2 separate regions of the Homo sapiens genome follow, and region 2 is linked to region 1. The links come from fine-mapping of genetic effects on gene expression. Tissue or cell type: lung. Region 1 holds a variant in brackets; the other region holds the start of a gene. All regions are shown on one strand. Distances are between the middles of the regions.

What was found. PIP is the estimated chance that this variant, and not a neighbour inherited with it, causes the effect.
Region 2: it holds the start of TMEM140, and the variant in region 1 is fine-mapped to the expression of TMEM140 in lung (TOPMed, PIP above 0.99).

Annotation. Positions count from the first base shown.
Region 1 is chr7:135,167,346-135,175,526 of GRCh38, reverse strand. CYREN (cell cycle regulator of NHEJ) reads left to right here and starts at 4,820. Exons shown (of 4, transcript NM_024033.4): 1 at 4,820-4,875; 2 at 6,467-6,741; 3 at 7,720-7,795. The coding sequence starts at 6,605. RefSeq lists enhancers at 4,080-4,299, 6,380-6,509 and a silencer at 4,680-5,289. The variant A/G (reference allele first, on the strand shown) is at 3,545.
Region 2 is chr7:135,144,167-135,152,347 of GRCh38, reverse strand. It overlaps TMEM140 (transmembrane protein 140), which reads right to left and starts at 4,276. Exons shown (of 2, transcript NM_018295.5): 1 at 4,078-4,276. It also overlaps a transcript of CYREN not described here. RefSeq lists enhancers at 585-734, 755-964, 3,998-4,497.

The DNA of each region.
Region 1 (8,181 bases):
TGGGAGGCTTAAAATGGGTCATAACGCGCATCAGGTTGGTTATTTCCTGGGCTACATACCTTGGATAGAATAGCATTATACAAACAAGTTTCTTTTAGAGTCCTGGTACACTTATAATAACCATAAAATAATAGGACTGTAGCAATCTTTTGTCCTACCTTAGTGACTTGATGTATATACTGGAAACAGTTCTCAGTCTGAGGAAGGTCAGTTGAAGTCCTTACCGTTCAAGTCCAAATTTTAAGGAAAATGAGTCTGTGATGAGTTTCCTCATGTTTCAGCCGTGCGTGGACCAGTCAGCTTCCAGGTGTGACTGGAGCAGGGCTTGTCGTCTTCTTCAGAGTCACTTTGCAGGGGTTGGCGAAGCTGCTCCCATCCATGTACAGCTCCCAGCCTACTGATGTTTAAGGGTGGTCTCGGTGGTTGGGCCTACTAGAATAAACTGAGTCCAGATATGGTTAACTGGGCTCTCTGATACCAGGAGGAAGGTGGCAGGGTTTAGGGTGTGCAAACGTCAATGGTTATGTGGGGATTTTCACAGAGCTAGCTTTGGCATCTAGTTAGTCTAGCATTCATCTAGCATGGTGTCCTTTGGTATTTATTAAAATCACCACAGCATGGGGGGAGTTTATGTTTAGGTTTTGTGTAAGAGTTAGCTTATCTGCTTCTTGTGACAGGGCCGTTGCTACCAGGGCCCTTGGACATGGGGGCCAGCCTTTGGAAACCCCATCTAGTTGTTTTGAGAGATAGGCCACTGGCCTTGGCCAGGGCCCTACAGTCTGGGTTAAAACTCTAACTGCCATTTTTTTTGTTTCTGACACATAGAGCGTAAAGAGTTTTGTCAGGTCAGGTAGCCTCAGGGCTGGGGCCGACATGAGTTTTTCTTTTTAACTCATGAAAAGCTCGTTGCTGTTGGTTGTAATAGATGTAGTTTATCTAATCTACATTTTTATTGACTGTCATCTACCAAAATATTGACTTAAATCCTGTAACTATTTGATTTCAAGCTTTAAATTGATCTGGGACTCCTTGCGGGGCTTCAATTGCATCTAAATAGATGTGAGAGTTGAAAGACCTATAAGGAGCTTTTCTCGCTTTATGATGTCTTCTTCTTATTATTATTTTTTCCTCTTGTTGATGAAATGTCAGGGTGAAAGGGATAGCCAAATGGACTAAAGCACAAGTGCCACTCTAGTTACTCGGCAGAGTCCCCAATAAAGGTCTACCACAATACCACCACACATCCGCTTTGGGATGAACAAGGGCTGACTGATTGATAAGCTCTTGAAAATTCTTAAGCTCACTGCATCCCTTCAGGTCTCCAAGGAATGCTAAGTCTCCTCCCTGCCATGAGAGACACGTAGTGAACTTAGTGTTGGGAGATGGAAGCTGGATGGCCCTCGGGGGCTGACCTGCAGGGACTTTGGGATATAGCAGAGAGAGCTTGGCATGACTTATTACTCCAGGCTATAGAATCCTGGAAAAGAGCTACCATGCAGCCCATGCCTGGCCGACTGGAGGACCACCTTAGTGGAAGGGGGACAATCAGGGCCTCTGGCCTGCCATGTGCACAAGCATGCTAATTGCTTTTGTTTAACCTGCAGATGGAATATTTGATCCATTTCAACCAGGCATTTGCATCTTGGTATGCTGTCTTAATTGCCAAAGTTTGTTTTAAGTCTTTAACTTTTATGATCCTCTAGTAAAATGAATGCTTCCTTTAGCACCAATTTTTATTAGTTTTTAGACAAAAGAAAGCTAAACACTATTTTATATTTACTAATGCTTCCTGTATGACTTTTATACCAGATAAGCTAAATTTTACCTTTATATTAGTGTGTTATTAATGTTAAACTTAATTTTAATAAAACCTTGTAGACATATTTATCCAATTTTTTATGTTTGACCATAAGGTAAGATTTTATAGACTCTTTTTAACCTTTTATAATTTTTGTTAAAGAGCAGGTTGATGCTTTAAGAAAAACCTCTTGCATTTTTACTTTAATGTCCAGTTCACAGAAAAACTGGATGATACCTTTTTAACCTTAGCTAATATGTTTACACACAGAATTTTTTTTATAATTAACGTTTTAAAGCTTGCTTAAACTTTTAAAACAATAATTTTTTTAACCTTTTAATGTAGGTAAAAATCCACGTTTATGCCCCTTTATAATTTTTTTTTTTACCAAAGGTATATTTTACTTTTCTTATACATCTTGCACATGAACTGGTTTTTTTTTTTTAAATAGTACTCAGGAGGCCTCATTACTTTTAAATTATACAATATTTTTTGCATAAAAATTTTTTTTTATAATTTTTTTCTCACGACTTTCCCAGACAATTTTTTAACATGTCTCAATTTTTTGACTGATTAACAAACTTTTTTTTCTTTAAACAACCAGTTAATTTATTTCAGGACAAGAATTTACCATATAACTTTTTTTTAATATAAATTCTGCCTCCCCCCTTTTCTTTCCTTTTTAAAAAAGCGAACTTTCTTTATGTCTTTGGACTAGACTGTCTAAGGCCACAAGATTAGAAGTTACCAAAATACATGTTACACTGTTAACTTTTAGCAAACTTCACTTTTGTTGAAAACCTTGTAAGTTTGAGATTTCAATTATCCTTTGCTATTAATAAGAACTTGTTTAGTCTAAACTCTTAGAATTGGTACAGATGGCCTCTTTTTCTCTTTTCTGGTCGTTCCTTGGCTCTGCCAGCCGCTTATGCTGCTGTTCTCTTAACTACTGTGGTGGGGGAAAGGGGGTCTAAAACCAGCTGTAACTGTCTATGTACAGAAACCGGTCTGGGTGCTTTGGCTTACAGGTTACCTTGTGCCATACCTTTGAAACAAGGGACCTGTCCAGGCTTCCTTCTGGTGGCCAACCTACCTCTAATGCTAGCCAGTCTATTTCACACAAAGTTCTAAGTTTTCCTGGTGTCATACTAACACCGTAATCTCCTTTAAATTCTCTCTTGAAAAAAAATTTTTTTAACATAGGTCCCAGTGGGGTGGGCTTACTTTGCACCTGACCCATGTTTTTTTTTTTTTTTTTCCAGACAAAATACCACGCTCACACCACACATACCACAAGACAAAGAACAGGTAAAGAGGGCACACACACTTTTACCGTTTATACCAAACCAAAATCACGAAATTCAAAATCCGAGTACCAAAAAATTCAAGCCAAGTCAAAACCAAAACCAAAGTATCCAGCAATTCAAGTCAAGTCAAAACCAGAACAAGAGTGCCCATGCAGGCATGCTGTGGGTGATCAGGCCACGTTTCCACTCAGATGGAGTGGGGCAAGTTCCAAAGACTAGTCTTACCAAGTCAAGCCAAGTCAAAACCAGAACAAAAGTGCCAATACAGGCACACCGTGGGTGATCAGGCCACGCTTCCACTCACGTGGAGTGGGGCAAGTTCCAAAGACTAGTCTTACCAAGTCAAGCCAAGTCAAAACCAGAACAAAGATGTCAATACAGGCACACCGTGGGTGATCAGGCCATGCTTCCACTCACATGGAGTGGGGCAAGTTCCAAA[A/G]ACTAGTCTTGACAAGCTTCAGATGTCTGGACTTCAAGTGCCAGTTCCTTCCCGGTGTTCAGCCAGTGTTAATCCTTCTCGGGAGCCTGCTATGCGCTGCTCTGGCAAGGCATTCCACCGGGGCCATTTCCTACCCGGGAGCGCTCTTTGGATTGCGTCAGTCAGGCTGGCCGGAGTCCTCTGCAGGGACGCTCCACAGGGCTTGTCAGTCACCTCGCTTCCTGGTCAGGGAACCAAGGACTGTAGCAGGACAAGCCACAGACAAAACCTCTCAGACACGGAGCTGTAGAAGAAAGGGCTTTATTCAGCTGGGAGCATTGGCAAGCTACTGCCTTAAAATCCGAGCTCCCCGAGTGCACAATTTCTGTCGCTTTTAAGAGCTCACAACACTAAAATTTCACATGAAAGGGTCGTGATTGATTTGAGCAAGCAAGGGGTACGTGACAGGGGCTGCATGCACCGATGGTCAGGGAGAAACAGAACAGGGCAGGGAGTTTCACAATGTTCTTCTATAGAATGTCTGGAATCTATGAATAACATCGGTTTCTAAGTCATGAGTTGATTTTTAACTACTAGGTTTAGGCCAGGCAGGCCCAGGTCCAGTTTTGGGCCTGGCGCTGGGCTGCCTGTCTTTGATTTCACTTCCTTTTTTTTTTAAAAAAAAAAAAAAAAACAGGTACTGAGTATAAAACAATATGAGAGGGTCTCTCTCTTCCCTCGCTTTAACTTTCGGAGGGCTGAAATTCTTTCTAGCCTTGGTTAATACAGCAATTCATTCCATTCTAGCTATTGTTATTTCTCTTACTATAATTTTACTATTAGTACTTACGCTATTCTATTATTTTCTTAATTTTCCACTTAATTAGGATAACAAACCGAGGCCGGGCTCCCATCCTCCTCAAGCACACGAGGGGGGCCTGGCCCAGCAGGGAGCTTCGCCTGGTTTCTGAGGGAATTCCCGGCGGGCCTTTCCAAAACATGCCCGTTCCCTTCCGCTAACTTCAGGGGCCAAGAATTGAACTTTCACCCTCCTCAAGCCGGTGGCGCTGCCTCGCTGGCGTTCCCAGCGCGCAGCCAACCGGATGCCAGCCGGCGGCATTACCACTGCCAGCATGGGGCGCCCGCGGACCTCCGACTGAGGCAGCTGCCGGGAGCCGGAAGTGTCCCGGGCGCCGGGACTGCGAGGGGGCCGGGAGTTCCCCAAGACCGGAAGTGTCCCGAGGCCGGGAGCCCGCGGGACCCCGGAGCGCGCGGGGCCGGAAGAGGCGGGCGGCCAGTGGAGGTCCGCAGAGTTTGGGCGCCAGGCGAGACGGCAGGGCTTAAAGTTCCGGGTGAGGCGTGGGTCCCACAACCGCTTGGAATTTGCCTCCCGGCTCCGCTCTGGAAGCTAAGAAGGGGCACGAGAGCCGGAGACGGGAACCTGAGAGCAGGGAAGCCAGTAGCCGGCCGGAGGAGCGCGCGGCCGCTCCAGTCGGAAGGAGCCGTTGCAGCCCTGCCCGGCGTGTGGCGGGGTCAGCGAGGCCCCTGCGGTGCTTCGCCCGCGCCTTCCGCTCCGCACTCACCCGCCCTCTGGGCCTCCCACAGGTCGGCGCCGCCAGCGGCGGGTACCGGCCCGCAGAGGGAGGGCGGGCTGTGAACTGGCAGCACATCGCGTTCCCGCGGGGCCCCCATTCTGCCCAGGCAGGGAGCGGCTGGGATGGGACTGAGGTCGGTCCGCGAGCGCGGTGCCCCAGAGACCCGGCTTCTGGAAGTTGCCGCGGCCTGCTCTTGGGGCCCAGAAGTAGGGCGGGGAGGCGCGGGGTCTGGAGTCTGCAGGACCTGGCTGCGAATCCAACCAGCTGATTTCAAACTTTTCTGTGATCTTCTGCAAGTTAACTAAGTCTCAGTTCCTCGTTTGCGAAATGTACTTAATAGGCACCCCAGGGTGAACTAAATTTGTCCGCACAGACTGCAGCATTGCGCTTGGGAGGCGCCTTAGGGGGTAGGAGTCACTAATATCACTGAGTTTTGACAGAAATGAAGGTGCATTGGCAAAGGTGTGCCCCATGGCCGGGCAGGTTAGGAGGAGGGCCTGGTAATATTTTTTCTTAAATTGTAAACAGCCATCTGGATGAGCAATGCATTATCAAATTATGATTCAGAGAGGACTATCGCTGACTACTCTTTTTTTTGGGCAAACCTCCGCTTCAGGAGCTTCTGGCTTGATTCCTAAGTGGAAGGTAGAGACCTAGGCCCTCTGAGTCACAACTCCATCTCTCTGGGTGAGGACTGAGCTCCAGGACTGCTGAGTGGAGGCAGAACAATTGGGATAGGGAAAAGAGAGGCCAAACTAGATCAGAGGCTGGCGTGGGCTTCAGAATCTACAGACTGGCACAGTTAATGCCTCCGGGCCCCTATTGCTGCTTCAAGTTTGACCAATCAGAAGTATCTTTAGCTTAAGGGCGGCGTGTTGGCCAATGAGACTTTATTGTGAAATAAAATGCCCTCAGTTTCATTTAACTGAGCCACCATAGAAGAGTAGAGAAATCGAGTTGGCCAGATGAGGGAGAGGCCATTAAGAGGTATTTTAGGGATTGAATGGGCTGGGCACCCAGAGGACAGTGGCATTTGGGGTGGTAATGAGAAGGAACATTAGGGGCCTCCGCCTCCTTCCGTTCCTCCTGTGCTGAGTCAGTCAGCACAGAGGCTGCAGGAGGTATCTCTGGTTGGCTTTGGCTGCCTGTAGGGGGCACCAGCTTTGGGGAGGTCAGAGGGCTCTCTCCTGAGCTGCTGTCCTGCCCACAATCACACCTGCCTGATGCCTGTGAATGGCCGTCTGAGTCTCTTGGGCCTTGGTCACTTCTGGCCTGCCCTGCACCGACCAGTAACTGTGCCTGATGACTGGAGGTATGGGAATTCACCGGACTTTATTGTTCTTTGTAGGAATCAAAGATCAACTCCCACTGAGGACAAATGGACCTGTAATTCCGGGTGTGACGAGAGAACGAGATTTACCTTCCTGAATTAAAAAACAGGTCATTAAGCTTGGGCCCTGACTCTTCTTTGTGAGAAGGTACAGAGATGGAAACCTTACAATCCGAGACTAAAACGAGGGTCCTTCCCTCATGGCTGACAGCCCAGGTGGCTACAAAGAATGTGGCACCAATGAAGGCCCCCAAGAGGATGAGAATGGCAGCAGTGCCAGTGGCAGCAGCAAGGTGCGACAGCTCTGGTCAGAAGACTCCTGCGAATCTGGCAAGTGGAGCAGGGGCCTCCATGACCTGGGCCAGGTCTTCCAGCCTAGGCAGAACAGCAAGATGGGCGGGTGTTTCAGTCTGATCATCTCTTGAGCTTTTAGAAGGTGGAGGGGCTGTGGGCGGGAGGCAAAGCGGGTTAACCCTCGAGGACAGGCACCCACTTCTGCCTCTGCACTGGTGAGTGCCCTGCCCTCAGCACACACAGAGTGGGTTCTCCATGTCAGCCAGTCTCTGATGCCAGTTGTCCAGAATGCCAGTCTCTTCCTTTACAACAAACATGGTAACATCAGATGGGCAAGATCAGTGGAAGGGTCTGTTCTGAGTGGTGCCTGCCCCTGTGGACAGACCTTTAGGGATGGACAGATGAGCAGCAGCTGCAGGGCCAGCAAGAGCTAAGGAGCTGGGGAGTGAGTTAGTTGAATGACGGTAATTGCCGGGGGGGGGCGGGGGGGGGGTGGTGAGTCTCCAGGCTGCACTGTGAAGTGGGCGGGGCCCCAGCACTCGGTGTTTCCCTCTCTGGCTCCTCCTCCTCTAAGGTTTCCTGACTGACAGCCTTCCCTTGTGACTGCTGCCGTCTTTCCCTAAGTCTGGTCCTGCTTTCAGGTTCCTCTCAGTACAGCCTCAGCCCGAGGTTCCCTTCCTCTTGCATCCATGTGTGTGTTTCAGAGGCGGCCATCCTTCCCTACTTCCAGATCCTTGTAGGGCAGTTGGTGGAGGGTGGGAGGCACCCCGGTGTTGCCTCCATGAAGCCCTGTGCCAGTCACTGGGCTGCAAGGCTGAGGAAATTGTGTCCGTGTCAGAAAGCTCCTCAGCTCAGAGGTGCTGGTACCTCCTGCGTGGTAGGAAGGCAGGGGGAAGAGGCCCTGCTTCTCCTGTTCTCTTTGCCCTTATGAGACTTGAGAGTCTGTGTCATCTGTGCCTTGCATGTCTTTTTTTCAGACTCCCTGCGACAAGGACTGTGTACTGCATGAATGAGGCTGAGATAGTTGATGTTGCTCTGGGAATCCTGATTGAGGTAAAGTCAGACAAGCCTCTTACTCATGACCAGAAACTCTGCATGGGCAGAGGCTAGACCCTTGGTCACCGTCAGTAAGAGAGACGCCCTCTGCCGTAGGCTACCTCTTCTTCCTCCTGCCACTTCCCTTGCTCTTATCTCGGCCATGCTGCCCAGGCCTCTCCCCATGTGGGTGTGCGCTCGTGGGGTGTCTTTGAGGCTAGAAGCCTGGGAGGGCATGCGTGTGTTAGGGAGGGCGTGTGTGTGTTAGGGAGAGCGTGACTGTGCACTGGTGTGTATGTGGATGGGACATGAAGCGTTTACCTGTTTGTGTTCTTGGAAAGGTTCCCAGTTGGGTAGATGACTTCTTAGCCATTGCCCCTCTCCTGAGCAGAGGATGCTGAGCT
Region 2 (8,181 bases), 23 kb after region 1:
ATTTAATCTTCACAACACCCTTGTGTGGATGTTATTATCACTGTTCCCATTTGACGTAGTGAAGACAGTGTGGAATACTGGTTCTGAGCATGGACCTTGAAGCTATGGCTTCTGGGTTCAAGACTCTGCTCTTCCATTCACCAGCTGTGTGACCTTAGTTACTTAACATCCTTCTGCCTAGATTTTTCATCTGTAAAATGGCTTTAATTATATAACTTATTTTGTAGATGTTATGGAAATTAAATGAAGTAATTTGTGCATGGCATTTAGAACATGACCTGGTAAGTATTATTTAAATTATTACTACGATAGAGAGAAAACTGAGGCTCAGAGAAGTTAAGCCCAGGCTACCAGCCTGACAGTGGTGAGATTCTAGGAAGACAAATAGTGCCAGGGTTCATTCCCAGAGATGAACTCTAGGAAGCTGGTCTCATTTATGTTTGGTTGTGATGACTCCAGGATGCAGCTGCCTGTTGAGAGGTAGCACAGTGTGGTGGTAAGGAGCATGGGTTTTAGAGCCAGATGACCTGGGAGCATGTCGTCGTTCTGTCACTCACTAGTCATATGACCTTGGGCAAGTTACATAGCCAGCCTGAGCCTCACATCCTCATCTGTAATGCATCAGTTGTCACGTTCCTCATGGGCTGTTGTGAGACTGAAGGAAGTTCACTCACATATAGAGGGCTTGGGGCCTGACACAAACTGGGTCAATGTGTCTGCTCTGGTCATGATGCTGAAGCAATAGCTCAGTGGGAGAAACGGGAATTGACGGAGAGTCAGGTAGACATGGTTGGGTGTGTCGCCTGAATGGAGAGAGGAGAACTGGGAAGAAAATGTTAGCAGAATAAAGCCGGGGCAACAGAGCTTGCCAGGGCATAGAACAAGGGCGCAGGTTTACTTGTCAGAGGCCACCAGTCCTGGCTAAAATATTTCTGGTGGAACACATTGAAGATCAGTGTGCTCATGGTTTAGGTGTGGCTGTCACAAAAATAAAAAGGGAAGAAGAAAGGGAAATGTGTCATATTTCCTTTGGTAGAAACATGAGTCCAGGTTCTAATTCTTTTCAAAACAGGGCTACTGCAGTGTTTTTCAACAGTGTGTAGGTGGTGGCAGCTCCTGGATTTCACCAGTGTTTTCTGTGGACAGCCATCCCAACCACCAAGTTTTTAATGAATGCTGTGATGTTTTGATTTACTTAATTATTCCATGTAAATAAAACAGCTTTATCAGACAAAATAGGACTATACCATGAGATTATAACATAAAGTCAGAAGCATGAGTCCAGGCACCCAGATGACAAGCCATTGAGATAGCTGTTTAAATGGTTCCATTAATATTAACTTGCTATTTGTGCAATTGTTTTGTTGACTATTAGCTCTCACTAGCAGATAATCCAAGTGGGAACAAAGATTACAAAAAGTTTAGAGGGAGAAGAAAATCCTTAAAAATGAGAAAATGTCTACAAATGAGCCATCTTAATTTGTTTGTTTGTTTGAGACAGTCTTGCTCTGTCACCCAGGGTGGAATGCAGTGGCACCATCTTGGCTCACTGCAATCTCTGCCTCCCGGGTTCAAGAAATTCACCTGCCTCAGCCTCCTGCCACCACGTCCAGCTAATCTCATTTGGTTTCTGTTGGCAGGACTCCACGGTCCAGTTTGTGGGCGGCCAAGATTCACAAGATTCAGAGTTTGAGAATCAGTAGTACCAGAAACTGGTGACTGCCTTTGGCTGTCAATGGTTAGTTTTCCCGCACCAGCCCTCTCTTCCGCAATTACAAAGGCAATTTGCCACCCACTTCGACTCGTGGGGTCAGCATTTCATCTTGTAACTCTGTTAGTGACACATTTTGGATGACTCCCTGAATCAGAGGCCCTGGGGAATCAGTGCCACACAGGACAAACCAGGTGCCTGCTCTCATTGAGCTTGTACTCTAGTTGGGAAGGCAAACACCAAATGTATTTTTTAAAAGGTAATTATAATTTTTGAAAAGGTTTGGGAAAGAAATAAACAGGGTGAGTGAGAGAGAGAAACTGGCAGGAGGAAGTGATGACTAGATTATAGGGTCAGGGAAAGCCTCTCTTCAGAAGAGATATTTGTTTTGAGTCCTGAAAGGGTTCTTCATTAACTAATACTGAAGCAATTGATCAGCTAACTAGAAAAGAGAAACAAAACTATTTTAGGTCCTCATCTCACTCCACATACCCAAATAAATTTCACATGGATCCAAGAGTGAAAGGTAAAACCAGATAAAAAAATCAATGATCTGGAAAAAAGGATATATTTGATTTATGAGTGAAAAATAAAATTTGGAACTTAAGAGCAAATGGAAACTACAAATAAAGAATTGCACAGGTTTAACTATTCTAAAATAAAGATTTCTATTCACCAAAAACAACATAAATATAATTAAAAGTCAATGAGCATGGAAAATATCTACCACAACTATGAAATGATTAATGTACTTAATGTTTAAAATGTTTACGCAAACTGTCAAAAAACATTACACCTCATTAAAAATGGACAAATATGAAGAGATAATTCACAAAGAATGCAAAGTAGTTAACTAACATGAAAAAAAATTCTGTAACTTTTCTAATGTAATTAAAGATACGCCAAGTAAAAAACCAGAGTTTCCCTATCAACACTGTAGGTAAAAACACTTGATGATACCAAAAATATGGTTAAACTGGCATTCTCACACAATGATGGTGGATGTGAACATTTGTACAAACTTTCAGGGAGGCAGATTGGCAATAAACATTAAAAACCCTAAAAATAGTCATATCTCTTTGGCCCACTTTTATAAATCTATCCTAAGACAGCAATCAGAAATCCAGTCAATAATTTATACATAGGAATGTTCAGCACAGCATTACTTTTGGCACAAAATGGGAAGCAGCTTGAAAGTCCAATATCAGAAGTAAACTATGATGTATCAAGGATAAAATACTATGCATCTTTTAGAAAAAGCAGGTATAAAATCACTCTACATAGTGTGACTACATCCATATAAAGAGGCATAGGAGAAAGAGACTAAAGAAGTATTTGAAAATGTTAATGTTAGCTGTGGTAGCTCTGGGTGGTGACATTACAGGCAATTGTTCTCTATTTGCAGTAAAATATTTTTAGAATTATGTGCTACATTTATGAAAAAAAAAGAAATTTATAAAACAGGCATTCAAAACAGCCTTAGTAATTAGATAAAGCAGGGACTAAGCTGGAAAGAAAGTTGAGAAAGGGGAATATGTGCAAGATTGAAAAAATATCTCATGGACTGAGTCTCAGACCTGAGATTTTGGGGAATGGGGTATGGTAAGTGGATACTGAAAAATGCTCTTCAGTTATCATGAGGGAAGAAGGAAATATGTGTCTTTTCCCTCTTTCAAAGGAGCCTTTGATTTTATAGGCGAAGAAGCATAGTGGAAGTTATTAGTGAAACTAAGCCCACATTAAAAAAAATCTCTTAAAATATGCATCAAGAGAACTAAAATACCACCATGGATTTCCACTGGGGCATGAGGAGCAATCTGGTCTAATGACTAACATAAGATCTAAACATCTCTTAGGTCCCATTCTTTGAGGCAAGAACACAAGTTTTTCTGTTGATATTAATCTTCAGTGTGTATTTTAAAGTTTTATGATGTGTTCGTAACTACCATTGAATAGTGGTTTAGTTAGTGTTGGTCGGTGACCTGCTTTTGTTTACCTATTTCTGATGAACAGTGTATTGCACAAGCCACAGCCATGTCCTTGTACACACTGCGTGCAAGACTCTGCTGTGTGCAGTCAGCCCTGCATCGTTTCTAACCAGTTATACTGGCCTTACTTTCATCATCTTTGAGGCCAGAGCTACACATGTTGATGCCGAAGAGTGGAAGGAAGGAGAGCAGAGAGTAAAGGGGGTAGATTATGTAGATTATACAGACATGAGCGAGGGAGGGTCACAGATACTGAACAACCAGTGAGTTCCCCTATGTGGATTGCCAGAACATGAAATATCTGAGAAGAAAACAAAATTGTCTTACAAGGTAGTAGACGTCTGGGTAAGCTGTGATGCTTGCAGGATCGGTACTTACAGAAAGGAGGTGCAGAGACCACAGGAACACTCATGAAAAGGAGAAGCAGGAAATCAGGGTTGGTTGTTTGAATCTTCCTTCTCGCTGGCTTTCTAATGTCAGACTCCAGAAAGGAGGAGTGGAAGGGAAATGGCAGGCAGATGCAGTCCTGAGCTGGTGCCCCCTTGCCTTCGCAGTCGTGCCTAGTAAACAGCTCTCTGAACTTTGGTACATTTGTTCTGACTGATGTCACTATCAGCTGATTTCACTTTCGTTTCCTAACTTGCCAGTGGCCCATGACTTTTCAGAAATGAGGTATGTAAACAACTTTTTATTGTCCATTATGACATACTCTTTACCTACACTGTAGCCGGCAAACCAACTGATTTAAAGAGCCAGGTAAATGTCTTGATTATATCACACAATAATTCCAGAAAGGGAAGGAGCCAAAGAACTCTCGAAGCTCCCAGTGATTTAAACTGCAAGATAAACACAACCCGGAATTTTATTCAGAAGAAACCCATCAGGATCATCTGGTCCAAGCTCCCAGCCAGTGTGGCAGTCAGGACCCAGGTCACCTCCTACTCATTTCCTTGGGAAGCAGCTATGCCGTCTGTCCCCCAACCCCTTTTAGAGATCAATTTTGTAATGATGACTGGGCTTCTCTGGACACAAAACTTTGTGTCCTGAGCATTCTCACTGCAGTGTTTAGGCCCATGTTGGAGCAGCTGGAACATCTATTTTATTTCAAAATAAGAGCCGAACAAAGCTTTTATTTTTGTAAGCATTGGGGCTCCTGGCCAGAGTTTAAAAATTGCTTCCGTTGCTCACATGACCAACTGGAAATTTCAACTGTGGGTTAAACTTGGTTACATGAGACTGCTACCTAGTGCTATTGCTGAATCCTTCAGCGGTTCTCTTCTGCTTCCTTGCCCTTCCTCCAAAGGAGGAGTTATTTGAACTGCTACATTGCCCTCCCCCTGCCCCTAGTTCTTTTAAACGCAAACTCTAGAAAGAGGTGATGGGATCCAGGAGGAAGGAAGAACAGAGGCTTTGAGATCAGAGAGTTCTGCTACATACTAGCAAATTATTTAATCTCTTTGAGCATCAATTTCTTATCTGTAAAATGGAAACAGTACCTACTTTGCATGGTTGCTCTGGGGACTGGAGATAATATAAGTGCTTAGTACAATACTGGGACCATAGTAATGGTAGCTATTATTATGAAAAGTGGAATTTCTGTATATTTAGTCTAGCATCCATATTAATGCCTTTAAGACAGAAAATTAACTTTTAGATACTAATATACAGTAGTTACTCTGAAAACTCAATACTGGTGAGTGAAGTGATATAGAAGAGATAGAAACATATTTATATTTATGAAATTTATTCAAGGTTATCATGTACCTAGTTTTCAAAGAGTCAGTTTTTCAAAACTTACGAAAATCGGCAGTCCCACACTCTCCCTTTCTTCCTCTTCAGAGGCAAGCACTTTCACCTGTGCTCATTCTTTAGGCATTTACCTCAGTTCTCTAAATAACATGCTTGGATTGGTACTTCTTGATTTTTCAGTTTCAGGCATAATCTACTGACTCCCAACCATAAAAGGTGAAGATTTAGCTTTCTTCTTCCCCACTGCATGTTCCAGAAGTATGCTTCCTCTCTTCCTCCTCTATCCAAATTGGTTATAGTTTTGTTTAAATCAATATTCAGTGTTTACAATATTGGAATATGCACAGGTATACTTTATTTTATTGTGCATCTCTCTTTGTGGATCCTGCATCTTTTACAAATTGAGGATTTGTGGCATTTTTGCATCGAGCAAGTCTATTGGCACCATTTTTTCAATAGCCTTTGCTCACTTCATGTCTCTGTGTCACATTTTGGTAACTTTTGCAACATTTCAAGCTTTTTCATTATTATTATGTTGGTTATGGTGATCTTTGATGTTACTATTGTGATTGTTTTGGGGTGCCATGAACCGCACCCATATGACGGTGAACTTAATTGATAATTCAGTTCTGACCGCTCCACCAACTCTGTGTTGGTGTTCTGACCGTGTGTTCTGACCACTCCACCAACTGGACGTTCCTCCATTTCTCTCTCACGTTAGGTCTCCCTATTCCTGAGACACAATAATACTGAAATTAGGCCAATTAATGTCCCTACAATGGCCTGTAAGTGTTTAAGTGAAAGGAAGTGTCACATGTCTTTCATTTAAAATTGGAAACTAGAAATGATTAAGCTTAGTGAGGAAGGCATTGTGAAAGCAAAGATAAGCCAAATGTTAGGCCTTATGTTGTGAAGGCAAAGGTTCAGATGATTGTTAGCATTATTTAGCAACAAAGTATTTCTAAATTAAGGTATGTCCGTTAGGTTTTTTTAGACATAACAGTATCACACACTAAATAGGCTACCTTATAGTATAAACATGACTTTTATATGCACTGGGAAACCAGAAATTCGTGTGATTTGCTTTACTGTAATACTTGCTTTATTGCAGTGGTCAGGAACAGAACCTGCAACATATCTCCGAGGTGTGCCTGTAAATACCATTTACAGCAGCTGAGCCATGTAGAAAATTAAGATTACTTTTCCTATCCTGCATAACTTTTGATCTTCTCTGAAGATAATTGCTTTTTTTAAAAAGTTTGTTTGCTTGCTTGGTTTTCTATTGCTTAACACTAATCCAACCCTCAAATCTTTATCAAATCTTCTATGAATAAATTTCTATGCATCAAGTATTCTATATCTTCCTGAGAAAGGCTTTTCAGACCCTTCCAACCTGCCCCAGTCTGGGGCTTGACACCACACACAGCTGTTGTCCTGGCTTCTCACATCACCACCATGCTGGGGATTCCCTTTACTTCTGTCCTAGGTTGGATCTCCTGCTTCCTGCATCAAAGGCATTTCTCTTTCTCCATTTATTCAGTTCTGGGAGAGTAAATCTCCAGTAACTTCCTGAGAAATGGGTACACTGAAGAGAATTTTTTGAGAACTTACAAAACTGAAAATATCTTCATTCTAACTTGATCTATTCAAATGTGATCAAATTTAGACTGAATATAAAATTTTAGGTTAAAAATAATTTTCATTTATAATTTTGAAGGCTTTGTCCCATTATGTCTGGCTTTCTTGTTTTGTTGAGAAGTTTAAATTTGTTCTGCTTCCTGGCTTCCAAAATGGTCTCCTCTTGTCATCCTTTCAGCTTTATGCCTTAAAAAATAAATTATTTTGGTGGTTTTGAGAGGGAGCAAAATTGAATGTGTATCCAGTTTGCCATTTTTAACTGGAGGTCTAAAATATTTCTTTGTTCCTCTTCTTTTTTTTTTTTTTTTTTTTTTTTTTTTTTTACTCTTTTGAGACAGGGTCTCTCTGTCACCTAGGCTGGAGTGCAGTGGCACGATCACAGCTTATTGCAGCCTTGACCTCTTGTGCTCAGGTGATCCTCCCACCTCAGCCTCCTAAGTAGCTAGGACTACAGGTGCGTGCCACTATGCCTGGCTAATTTTTATATTATTATTATTATTAATTTTTTGGTACAGATAGGGTTTTGCCATGTTGCCCAGGCTGGTCTAACACTCCTGGGCTCAAGGGATTCACCTGCCTTGGCCTCCCAGAATGCTGGGATTACAGGCATGAGCCACTGTGCCTGGCCTCTTTCTTATTCTTTATCTTCCCTTTTTCTTTTTTTTGTTTTTACTCCAAGAGGGTTATTTCTTACTGTCTCTTTCACTGGTTCTCTGGCAACCTAGCTGGCCTATGGTTGAGCTTGTTGCTTTTATCAAGCTACTCATTTCCTCTTAATTGCTTACTGTCAAAATCTCCATTGTTTTTGGCAGTACTCTTAACCTTGAACTTCCCCACACTCTGTTCCAAACAAGTCAGTTTACTTGAGGACAGCTTCAGAGCTCTCTGTTCTTAAGGCATGCCTCTCCTCTGGGCAACATATCTGAGCCACTGCTCTGGACCTGGGGTTGGTGACAGTGGCTTGCATCTTCTAGAGTGACCCATCTACTTTTTGAGCATGGTCCTGAGTGGCGTAGTAGCCTCTGGTCTTTTCAACTTCAGCTTGACTCTCCTGGCATGGAAACTCCACACTATGAAGTAGCTGGAGAAAAGGTG